3 linked regions of the Homo sapiens genome follow. The protein of the gene in region 1 interacts with the protein of each later gene in a biochemical or structural test. Each region holds a gene or a part of one and is shown on either strand. Other genes may lie near its edges.

The links.
Region 2: the proteins of TRIM25 (region 1) and UBE2N form a complex in vitro, tested with the Homo sapiens proteins (3 studies listed by BioGRID, with this or other methods).
Region 3: of the proteins of TRIM25 (region 1) and ZC3HAV1, one has a biochemical effect on the other in vitro, tested with the Homo sapiens proteins (2 studies listed by BioGRID).

What each region holds. Positions count from the first base shown.
Region 1 is NC_000017.11:56,893,303-56,897,053, forward strand, and holds part of TRIM25 (E3 ubiquitin/ISG15 ligase TRIM25), read right to left. Parts: intron 2,651-3,751; coding exon 2,624-2,650; intron 2,303-2,623; coding exon 2,219-2,302; intron 2,140-2,218; coding exon 2,041-2,139; intron 1-2,040.
Region 2 is NC_000012.12:93,414,212-93,417,962, reverse strand, and holds part of UBE2N (ubiquitin-conjugating enzyme E2 N), read left to right. Parts: intron 1-3,751. UniProt on the Homo sapiens protein: The UBE2V1-UBE2N and UBE2V2-UBE2N heterodimers catalyze the synthesis of non-canonical 'Lys-63'-linked polyubiquitin chains. This type of polyubiquitination does not lead to protein degradation by the proteasome.
Region 3 is NC_000007.14:139,075,067-139,078,817, reverse strand, and holds part of ZC3HAV1 (zinc finger CCCH-type antiviral protein 1), read left to right. Parts: intron 1-164; coding exon 165-266; intron 267-2,408; coding exon 2,409-2,532; intron 2,533-3,751.

The sequences.
Region 1 (3,751 bases):
GGGGTGGAAAAGGCCCTAAGTTGATAGAATTTTACTTTCCCTGTTTATGCGGCTGCCACAGAGTGCACAGCAGCTCCTGAAAGACGTGGCTCAGCACCGCCGCTAGCAGCTTGGGCAAGAGTTAGCTGCAGCCCAGGGCTGGTCTGGGCCTCTCTTGGGGGGCAGGGACAGCGGAGGGCTACAAGAAGGCCAGCCCTGAAAAAGCAAGGGACCCACAGATCCCCACCAAGCCTGCTGCAGCTGCTTATGATAAAGGAAGGGCTATATTTTTCAGTGATTGGCTTTGGCCTCCACATGGAAGTGGGTACCACTGGCAGGTGCTGCCTGGAGTGTTGCACGTGGGTGCAGAAGAAACAAGAAGACGGAAAGTGGGAGGGCCCTAGGCCTGGCCTTGACAACGGAACTCCACCCACTTCCAGGTTGGACGAGCTTGCAAAGGAGGGGTGGATGGAAACCCAGGGGGGTATAGCAGCTCAAGCGGCAAGGGGAGAGAGTGTCAGAAGGAGGAGGAATGCCACTGACAGGTGAAGCTAAATAAAAGCTGAAAGGCGTCCCTGGATTTTGTGACACGGAGTACCCTGATGACCTCAGAGCTGCCTGGGTCAAGGGCAGGACAGAGGTCAGAATGCAGTGGCACGAGGATTAGACTTCAGGCTCCCACCTCGGCCCCACATTGCAACCCTGGGCAGCCAAACACCAACATTCTGAATGAACCAGTCTGGGGGACAGCCTGGGCATCGGGGATTTTAAAAAGCTCCCCAGGATTCCAACACGCAGCCACAGTTGAGAGCCACCAATGTAGAAAATCTGCAGAGCTGCTTTTCCCCAACTGTCCTCAAAAGGATCATGGAGGAAATGAGCTAAACATACAGCTTTCCGTGCTTGCCTGAGTCTGATCTTGTAGGGCTAGAACAGGGCCCAGGAATTTGGTTTTTGGGGTTTTTTGTTTGTTTGTTTGTTTTTTAAGACAGAGTCTCGCTCTGTTGCCCAGACTGGAGTGCAGTGGCACAATCTCGGCTCACTGCAACCTCCACCTCCCAAGTTCAAGTGATTCTCGTGCCTCAGCCTCCCAAGTAGCTGGGATTATAGGCATGTGCCACCACGCCCGGCTAATTTTTTGTATTTTTAGTAGAGATGGGGTTTTGCCATGTTGGCCAGGCTGGTCTTGAACTCCTGACCTCAGGTGATCCACCTGCCTCGGGCTCCCAAAGTGCTGGGATTACAGGCATGAGCCACCGCACCCAGCTAGTAATTTGTATTTTTAACAAGCATTCGGGTGAAAGGGAGGCAGGAAACAGAGCTGCAGCTGAGACAGTTTTGCTAGGTTTGTTTTTGTGATTTGGAGAGATGTAAACGTGCTACAGATAGGCAAGCCTAGGTAGAGATGCTGAGGGTGAAGAGATGGGAATGGAAAGGCCTAAGAGAGAGCAGAAGATTCCAGAGAGCGTGTGGGGAGCAGACTCCAGAGCCCAGGGCCAGGGGGTCTTGGGAAAGGGGCCAGGAGGCGAGGAAGGGGGCACAGTAGATGCAGATGCGATGTCAATAACAGAGCAGGGGGAGCCCCTTCTACAGTGTCTGTCTTTTTCGTGAAGCAGAAGGTGGGCGGGACAGGGAGAAGGATGGAGCTATGGCCAGTGGGAAGTCTTGGGAATGGTGGCTCTGGAGAGTGGTGGGGAGGAGACAGGAGATGCAGGGCAGGCATGCCGGCAACGGGACGCCCGGTGAAGGCCGGTGACCGCAATCGCCCTGCCTTCTCTGCAGAGGACATGCAGGCGCCGACCCACAGAGAAAGGTGAGCTCAATTGGGCCAGACTAGACGGCAAGAGGGAGAGTCAAAGGACCGATTGTGAAATCTGAGCTAGTTAGGAAAAGTAAAGAAAGGCACTGATGACTGGGAGAAAATAAGGGAGCAACAAAGTAGAGGACAAGTGAAGGGGAGTGGCTGATATAGCCGGCCAGCTGGCCTCACAGAGAGCTGCACAGAGCGGCGCAGGAGAGACAGAACCAGTGGAACCGCGCACCAGCCCCGAAGCTACTCACACTCCAGGAGCTCAGGTCTGGACTTGGCCAGGAAGGTCTCCAGCACCTTGGCCTTGAGAGATGTTGAGTTCGGATGTGAGCTGGTGGCTTTGGCTGCAGCTGGGAGAGGAAACAGAGAGTGATTTGCAGAACAAACTCAGAGTGGACACCCCAAAGCTCCTTGCCCATGATAACTTACCCTCCAAGCCAGCTTGTTTTAAATCCACTAACTGTTCCGGGGCTCCAAACGTGGGAAGCTTGCTGGGTAAGGCAGGGACAGGGGCTGGGGGTAAGGAAAGGGAAATATGATACAGAGCAACGGGATGGCCTCTACTCCCTTCCACACTGATTAAGAGCCACTTCTACAAACACACGCCTGAACAGCAGGACAACACAGGGGAAAACAGACAAGGCTAAAGTCACCTTATTCATCTCACTTATGCTTGTCCTCCCCTCCAGCCTCAGGCCTGCTGCCATTACAGAATGGAATCATATAGAACCCATCACAGAACCCTGATGAGAGAGGTCGACTCTCACTACCAGCATTTAGTTCTGTGCTCGGGCAGTCTCAAGAAACGAACAGTTGCAGAAATGCATAACTTACGAGGTTTCTTGGATTTCTTTTCCTCTTCTGCAAAAGAAAGTTTTCAGATTTAATTTCTTTTAAGGCACAACACAATGACATTTTCAAAATAATAACATTCATGTGCATGAATTTGACCCAGACAAATAAAAGGATGTTTTAATTTGAAAAACAGAAGGAGTCAGCAGGCAAAATGAATCTATAGTGATAGAAACCAGCATGAGCGGTCGTGGGGGCGGGGACTGACTAATAAGGAGCATGAAGGAATTTTCTGGAGAAAGGGAAATTCTTTATCTTGATTTGAACAATGGTAACACATGTATGCATTTGTCAAAATAGATCTAACTGCACATTTAAGATTTACTGCAGGGAAAAAAGAGATTTACTGCAGGTAAATTATATTTCCATAAAGGAAAAAACACAAAAACCAAATAGGGAATCAGAAAAAAAAAAATGCTTGCCAAGGGCTGGGCGCATGGTGGCTCATGCCTGGAATCCCAGCAATTTGGGAGGCCAAGGTGCAGGAACCACTTGATCTCAAGCGTTAGAAACTAGCATGGGCAACATGGGGAAACCCCATCTCTACAAAATTACAAAAAAAAAAAAAAAGAAAAAACTAGCCAGGCCTAGTGGCACACACCTGTAGTCCCAGCTACTTGGGAGGTGAGGCAGAAGAATTGCTTGAGCCCAGGAGGATGAGGCTGCAGTGAGCTGTGTTCTTGCCACTGCACTCCAGCCTCAGCAACAAAATGAGACCCTGTCTCAAAAAAAAAAAAAAATGCTTGCCAAGTCTTTTAAAAATATCTGGAGTGTCTACCTACAGGAACTGAGTTTGGCTAAAATAGTCGTTCTCAAAGTCTGGTGCCCAAGCCAGCTGCAGTGACATCACCAGAGAACCCCTAAGAAATGCAAATTATTGGTCAGGCACTGTAGCTTACTCCTGTAATCCCAGCAATTTGGGAGGCTGAGGTAGGAGGATTGCTTGAGGCCAGGAGTTCAAGATCAGCCTGGACAACATATCAATATCCTGTCTCTACAAAAAAAAAAAAATTGTTTTAATTAGCCTGGCTTAGTGGCACATGCCTACAGTCCTAACTCCTCAAGAGGCTAAGGTAGGAGGATCACTTGAGCCCAGGAGTTCGAGGCTGC
Region 2 (3,751 bases), on another chromosome or scaffold:
ATTCTCATAAGTAACTTACAGTTGTGTACATAATGAAGAATTGACTTGCTTTATTAGTGATCCCAAAAAAGGAGCCCGTTTGTTTTATCTTACAAATTTTTCATAATTTTTTTCTTTATTTAAATTTTTTTTCTATAACACACAACTTTGTCCAGAACCCTGTTTGTTAATATTTTAGAATCGCTTAAAGATGTAGTGACAGGTTGGAGTTTACAGAGTAGGTATCATTGAAGCATCACTCAGTTTTTTAACACTTATTTTTCAGTAATGAAATTGGCAGTTACTGAGTTATCAGACAGCTCTTGTTTGAGATGAGCTAAAAGATCTACAGTTGATATTACTGGTCATATATTGCAATTTTGTGTTTCAGAGAATATTCTAAAAAACCTAATCACTGTAGACAGGATGCACTGGGATATAGATAGTTACTAACTGGACCAACTTTTCTCACACACAAATTAGCACTTTTTCTAAGAATACTGTTTATTACCCCAAAATTTTACTGTACATACTCCAATCATTGCCTTGCAGAAGAGCATCTAAGACCTGTCATTGCTTCGTACTGAGCACAAATTATTTTTCAACTTAAAAATAAGAGTCCTGGTTAATAGAGATAGGTTGACAGAATGTCAGTTGTTATAATTGACTAACTACAGTATAGTTTACAGTAGTGTGAGTCTAGGGTTTGCTCTTCAAGACCCAGTAGATCTGTTGATAATTAGATCAATTTGATGTGATATTTGATTCCTTTTAAAAATATTTGTAGCATTAACTATTGTATGCGTTCTATAAGATGAGATACCTTCCTTTAGACTTAATTTTGTGGACATTTAAATCCATACCCTATTCCTTTACCAACTTACCTGTCTATTTTAGTAACTAACTTCCTGAACATAGTCTACATTAACTAATTTCCTGAACATAGTCTACAGTGCTTTCTATTATGCATGGCCCTAAACTCACTTCTGTTTGGGATTCAATCCTTGGACTGCTTTTAAACATAATAGAATCACAAAATTCATTTAAGGGTTATTCTGTTTTTCTGTAAACAACTATGGCCTTCCTATGTGATCTCATTTGTCAACTTTTTTTTTTTTTTTTTTTTGGTAGTGATGGGGTCTCACTATGCTTGCCCAGCTTGGTCTGGAACTCCTAGCCTCAAGTGATTCCCCTGCCTGCCTCAGCCTCCCAAAGTGCAGGGATTACAGGTGTGAACCATGGCATCCCACCTGCAATGTAAATTATTTGTGCCAAAAGATAGATAAGGCCGGGCGTGGTGCCTCACGCTTACAATCCCAGCACTTTGGGAGGCTGAGGCGGGCAGATCACTTTAAGTCAGGAGTTCGAGACCTGCCTGGCTAACATGGTGAAACCCTGTCTCTGCTAAAAATACAAAAATTAGCCAGGTGCTCACTTGGACCCAGGAGGCAGAGGTTGCAGTGAGCCAAGATCGTGCCACTGCACTGCAGCCTGGGCAAGAGAGCGAGACTTGTCTCAAAAAAAAAAAAAAAGATAGATAAGTGAAACAGTAGGAATTTTAGCCCTTTACTTCTTCACTTAAAGAAATCATACTGTACTCTGTCTTTCCACCAAAGAATAGTGTAAAACCAGAAGGTATTTTAGTTAGTCATGTGTTGAATAGTGGCCGGAAAGATTTTATTTCCTAGCCAGTTTTTGCCTTTTTAGGAAAAAAGTTGACATCAGTTTCTGTGGTTGAGACTTTTTCAGATGCTGCCATTTCAGACTTGTTTCATTTAGTTTGGATTTTATTCCTTTTTTCCCCTCCCACAGTTTATGCTGTGGGTTTGTTAGGGAAACCAACAGTTTAGTGAAATAATTATGCATGTTTTTGTGTCAGTCCATTAGAACTTGAGAGCAGCATATATTATAAGGACTATTTCAAAATGTTTTCTACACACGAAAGCTTATTTTAGAATGTGTTCCAATTAAATCTAGGCTTGATCAGGTCACATGATGTGCTTAATATGTACATTCTTTACAAAGAATATCTGATTTTGAGGGTGAACTGAAGATGAGAAAGTAAATGCCATACCTATCTCTGCCACTGTGTATTGAGAGTGATTTTGAAGCTATTTTGGGATACGCTTTTGGAGGCCTTTCTGTAGCTTTTTATAGTAGATACAGAGCTGCTACTACTTTGTGTAACTGGTGAGTGGTGGATTGGGACTCTTGGGCCCTGGCTTTCTTTTTTTTCCAGTCACCCAATTTATGGCTTTCTAAAAACATGAAGACCTGGGGTAAAATTAAAGGATGGAGGTGAGGAGAGCCCAGAATTCAAGGAATTTTACCATCCAGTTATTTTCTCATTTTTCTACTCCTGCTATTCATCCCTAATATCTTAACTTTTTTCCTAAAAAATGAAGACCAGCCTCTTTTGTTCTGGTCACATGTTAAAGGACTTCCCAAGGTCAGAGGCTTCATTATTGCCTCTTGAGCTTTTTAATACTCTAAAAATGTTTTAGTTTGAACCTAAAGAACATGTCAGTTTCTCACTTGCTCTTACATCGCCATGATCAAAACAAAAAACTAGTCTTAAAATACCAGAGACATTACCTAAAATGGCCATGGGTTTAATTAACACATTTTGGGGAAGCATTTGATTTGTATTTACATCTTATGACTATTTCAGTATATTACTGTGCTGAGAGAGAAGTTATTTGTTGTTGTTGTTTTTAACGTATGCCCTGTAGCTTGTGGAATGAAACAGTTTATGATGTATTTTTTTTTAGGTGAAGGCAGTGTAAATAAAATGTTCTCATTTATTGTTTTTCATACCTAAAAGCTTATTTAAATATGAACATTTTTCTGGTTAAAAATAAATATAAGTAGAAGTTAGACTATTTTTCCCCATACCTGAGTGGCTCCTTTTGTTTTCCTTCCATAATGTGCACATCCTGCCTTGAAAATAACCCTGCCTTAATGATGTTAACGATGAAATTCTGATCGTTTATTTCCCTCTTTTCATAACATCAAATAGATTCAGAATTCAGTAAATATTAATTGAATATCTATTGTGCCAGGCAGTGTTCCAAATGCTGAGGATATAGCAGTCCATAAAATAGACTCAAATCCATCCTCTCATGGAGCTTAAATTCTGAACAAAATAAGTAGAAATGAGATTTGTTAGTAGTGCTGTGGAGATAAAGCCAGGGAGTGGGGATAGGGAGTGTGCAGGGTAGGGTTGAATGGGGTTTGCAATTTCAGTTATGATGGCTTCACTGAGAAAACATGAAGATCTTAGGAGCTGAGGGAGCAAGCCATATGGATATCTTGGGGAGGAAGAGGAAGTACAAAGCCCTTGAGGTGAGCGGATGCCTGGCACGTTGAAGAACTACAAGGAAGCTAATTTTTGTCTGGAACAGAGAAGGTTAGGGGATGGAGAGAGAACAGCTGAAGATAAGTCAGAGAGGTAGGTGGAGTGAGGGCATCATATAGAGCGTCTTTTGGGGGCCCATTACAAGGACTATGACTTTTTTTTTTTTTTTTTTTTTTTGAGACGGAGCTTCGCTCTTTTGCCTAGGCTGGAGAGCAATGGCATGATCGGGGCTCACCGCAACCTCCACCTCCGGGGTTCAAGCGATTCTCCTGCCTCAGCCTCCCAAGTAGCTGGGATTACAGGCATGCGCCACCATGCCTAGCTAATTTTATATTTTTAGTAGAGGTGGGATTTCTCCATGTTGATCAGGCTGGTCTCGAACTCCTGACCTGAGCCGATCCACCCGCCTCGGCC
Region 3 (3,751 bases), on another chromosome or scaffold:
TTATGGAGGGGCTGTCTAGATGCTCATGGGCAAAACATAAATCATAGGAATTTTCTTGAACATGGCCCCCATTTCAGATATTCTTTCCCATTGTGAGACCAAGTGCTTTGATTTTTGGTTTAAACATTAAGATCAGCATACATGCATCCTTTTTTGTTTCATAGATTCTTTATCTGATGTCACAAGTACCACATCTTCTAGGGTGGATGATCATGACTCAGAGGAAATTTGTCTTGACCATCTGTGTAAGGGTTGTCCGCTTAATGGTGAGTAACCTAAGGACTTTTCTGTAAGCTTCCACCTTTTGGCCATTGTAAATAACACTGCTATGAACATGGGTGTGCAAATGCCTTCTGAAAACCCTGCTTTCAATTCTTTTGGATATATACCCAGAAGTGGAGTTGGGGGATCATATAGTACTTCTATGTTTAATTTTTTTTTTTGAGGAACTATTATTCATAGTGGCTATACCATTTTTCTTTCCCACCAGCAATGCACAAGCGTTCAAATTTCTCCACATCCTCACCAACACTTGTTCTTTTTGTGTGTGTTTGTTTGCCTTTTTTGTTTGTTTGTTTTGAGACGGAGTCTCACTCTGTCACCCAGGATGGAGTGCAGTGGTGTAATCTCAGCTCACTGCAACCTCTGCCCCCTGGGTTCAAGTGATTCTCCTGCCTCAGCCTCCCAGGTAGCTGGGGTTACAGGCGTGTGCCACCCCGTCCGGCTAATTTTTGTATTTTTAGTAGAGACGGAGTTTTTGCATGTTGGCCAGGCTGGTCTTGAACTCCTGACCTCAAGTGATCCACCCGCCTCGGCCTTCCAAAGTGCTGGGATTACAGGCATGAGCCACTGTGCCCAGCCACTGTTTGTCTTTGATAGCAGCCATTCTAACAAGTGTGAGGTGTGGACTATAATGAGTGGTTGTGTACTTTTCAGTCAGCCAAGTCTCAAGTAGGGCCACTCTATGGGTGTCCCTGCAGTGTCTAAACCTGTCTTTTTTGTTTGTTTTGAAGTTGTCACACATCTTCATTTTGAATATTTCAAAACAATTTAAACATAATATAAGGCAAATTTTGAAAAACAGAACTATCTTCTGTCTTCCTGTACTGTAGCTTATAACATCAATTCATTCTTCAGCCGGCATTCCTGCAATGGCTGTCTTTTGTATGCCTAGCCCTGTGCCAAATATGTAAGGGGGATGTAAGCTAAACCATAGTGCAGCCTTCTCTTTAGTAAGTTTATAATTAAGGTAGGGCATGAAAACATCCATAAAATGCCAGGCATGGTGGCTTACGCCTGTAATCCCAGAACTTTGGGAGGCTGAGGCAGGTGGATCACTTGAGGCCAGGAGTTCAAGACCAGTCTGGCCATCATGGTGACAACCCATCTCTACTAAAAATACAAAAATTAGCTGGGCGTGGTGGCACATGCCTGTAATCCCAGCTACTAGGGAGACTGAGGCAGGAGAATTTCTTGAACCCGGGAGGTGGAGGTTGCAGTGAGCCAAGACTGCGCCATTGCACTCCAGCCTGGGCGACAGAGTGAGTGAGATTCTGCCTCAAAACAAAAACAAAAACAAACAAAAAATTTGCAAATGGGAAAACTGCGTGAAGTAAGTAAAAACATATAAAAAATTAACCCCCAACTGACTATTGGGTACTGGCTAAAGGAATGCAAAAAATACAAGTCAGATGGGGATGGAGTGAGATTCGTTAAGAGAATCTTTCTGGAAGAGATGAACTGTAGGCCAGGGCTTCAAGGAAATAAAGGCTGTTGCCTCTGCTGGAGAGCATTTTGGCTTCATACACTTGGGGGGGTGCAGAAAGGGTAACTAAATTTCTGGTTACCTCGAATTTCTATCTGGGTGGAGTGACTTTGGGGGCAGTGGGGAATTTTTGTTTCCTTTTCTTTTTCTTTTTTTTTTTTGAGACAGAATTTCACTCTGTCACCCAGGCTGGAGTGCAGTGGGGTGATCTCGGCTCACCGCAACCTCCACCTCCCAGATTCAAGTGATTCTCCTGCCTCAGTCTCCCGAGAAGCTGGGATTACAGGCACCCACTACCATGCCTGGCTAATTTTTGTATTTTTAGTAGAGACAGGATTTCACCATGTTGGCTAGGCTGGTTGTGAACTCCTGGCCTCAAATGATCCGCCTGTTTCGGCCTCCCAGAGTGGTGGGATTACAGATGTGAGCCACCACACTCTGCCTGAATTTTTGTTTTCTGATGAGTCTCCAAGGTAATGAAGGAACCTGGATAATGGACACACAGCAGTGTCAGCTGGTATAGATGGAACCTGTCTGGCAGGGGGCAGGGCAGGCATGGATGGGGAAAGCTGGCAGTGAACTTGACTGAATTGGTTAGAATCCCTGCTCAACAGTCCCTCAGACCCCTTCTTTGTCTTTGTAGGTAGCTGCAGCAAAGTCCACTTCCATCTGCCTTACCGGTGGCAGATGCTTATTGGTAAAACCTGGACGGACTTTGAGCACATGGAGACGATCGAGAAAGGCTACTGTAACCCCGGAATCCACCTGTAAGTTGGTGGCTGTACTCTGGCTTTCAAGAGTCCAACATTATCAAAGGGAAGCATTAGTGCTAGGCTCAGGGGAAAAAGAAAAAAACACTTTTCCATCAGAATCCCATTCGAGTGTGAAATACCTCTTGAGATAAAAAATGGCAAATGCCTGCCGAGTTAATGAAGGAAAACCACAGCTGGGTGGGTTTGAGGTCACACTGAGCCTGGCTAATACCAGAGATCCTGGGAATGTTTGCTAACTCAAATGAAACAAACAGTGACATGATTATTTGTTTAGTTGACAGTTGTCTGTGTCCTGCAAAAAAACACAGTTCAGTGTCCGGCTCGTATCCTGATCAGTTCATCACAGAACTATTAAAAGTACTAAATGATTTAGGACAAAAGAGCCTTTGGCTTAACTTCATAATTTAAAAACACGGTTTGAATAATTTCATATAGTTTTACTGTAGAATTTTGTTGTATACTTTAGCATTTAATACCTCCCTTATGTTTGCTATTTTCTCTAGCAAGGCATCTAAGAGGGTACCTTACATTTCTGCTTCTGGCCGAGCGTGGTTGCTCATGCTTGTAATCCTAGCACTTTGGGAGGCTGAGGCAGGAGGATCACTTGAGCTCAGGAGTTCGAGATCAGCCTGGGCAACATGATGAAACCCTGTCTCTACCAACAATACAAAAACTAGCCAGGCATGGTAGCACGCACCTGTGGTCCCAGCTACTCGCTACTCGGGAGGCTGATGTGAGAGGATCACTGGAGCCCAAGAAGTTGAGGCTGCAATGAGCCGTGATTGTGCTACCACACTCCAGCCTGGGTGACAGAGTGAGACCCTGTCTCAAAAATAAATAAGTAAAAACATTTCTCCTTCTGGAAGAGCTGAAATGGGTGATACCCATATGACCGTATTTATCTATGGTGTGCAGGGATATAAGAAACATCCCAGTTTTATAAGGAAATTCTTAAGGGGGAAAAGTTACATTACTTTTCATCATATGAGAATTTAGTGATTTGAGGGTGGAGATTCTGTGTTGCTGGATTTTTACCACTAGAGGGCGACATGAGCTACTTTCTGGTTGCTAGGTCTATATTTCCGCTCCCAGGCAAGTGGAGAGCCGGGTTTCTCAACCTCAGCACTACTGACGTTTTGGGCCAGATTCTGTTTAGCACTATTCCTAGCCTCAATCCACAGATGACAGGAAGCACCACCCCCCCACCAGCCCC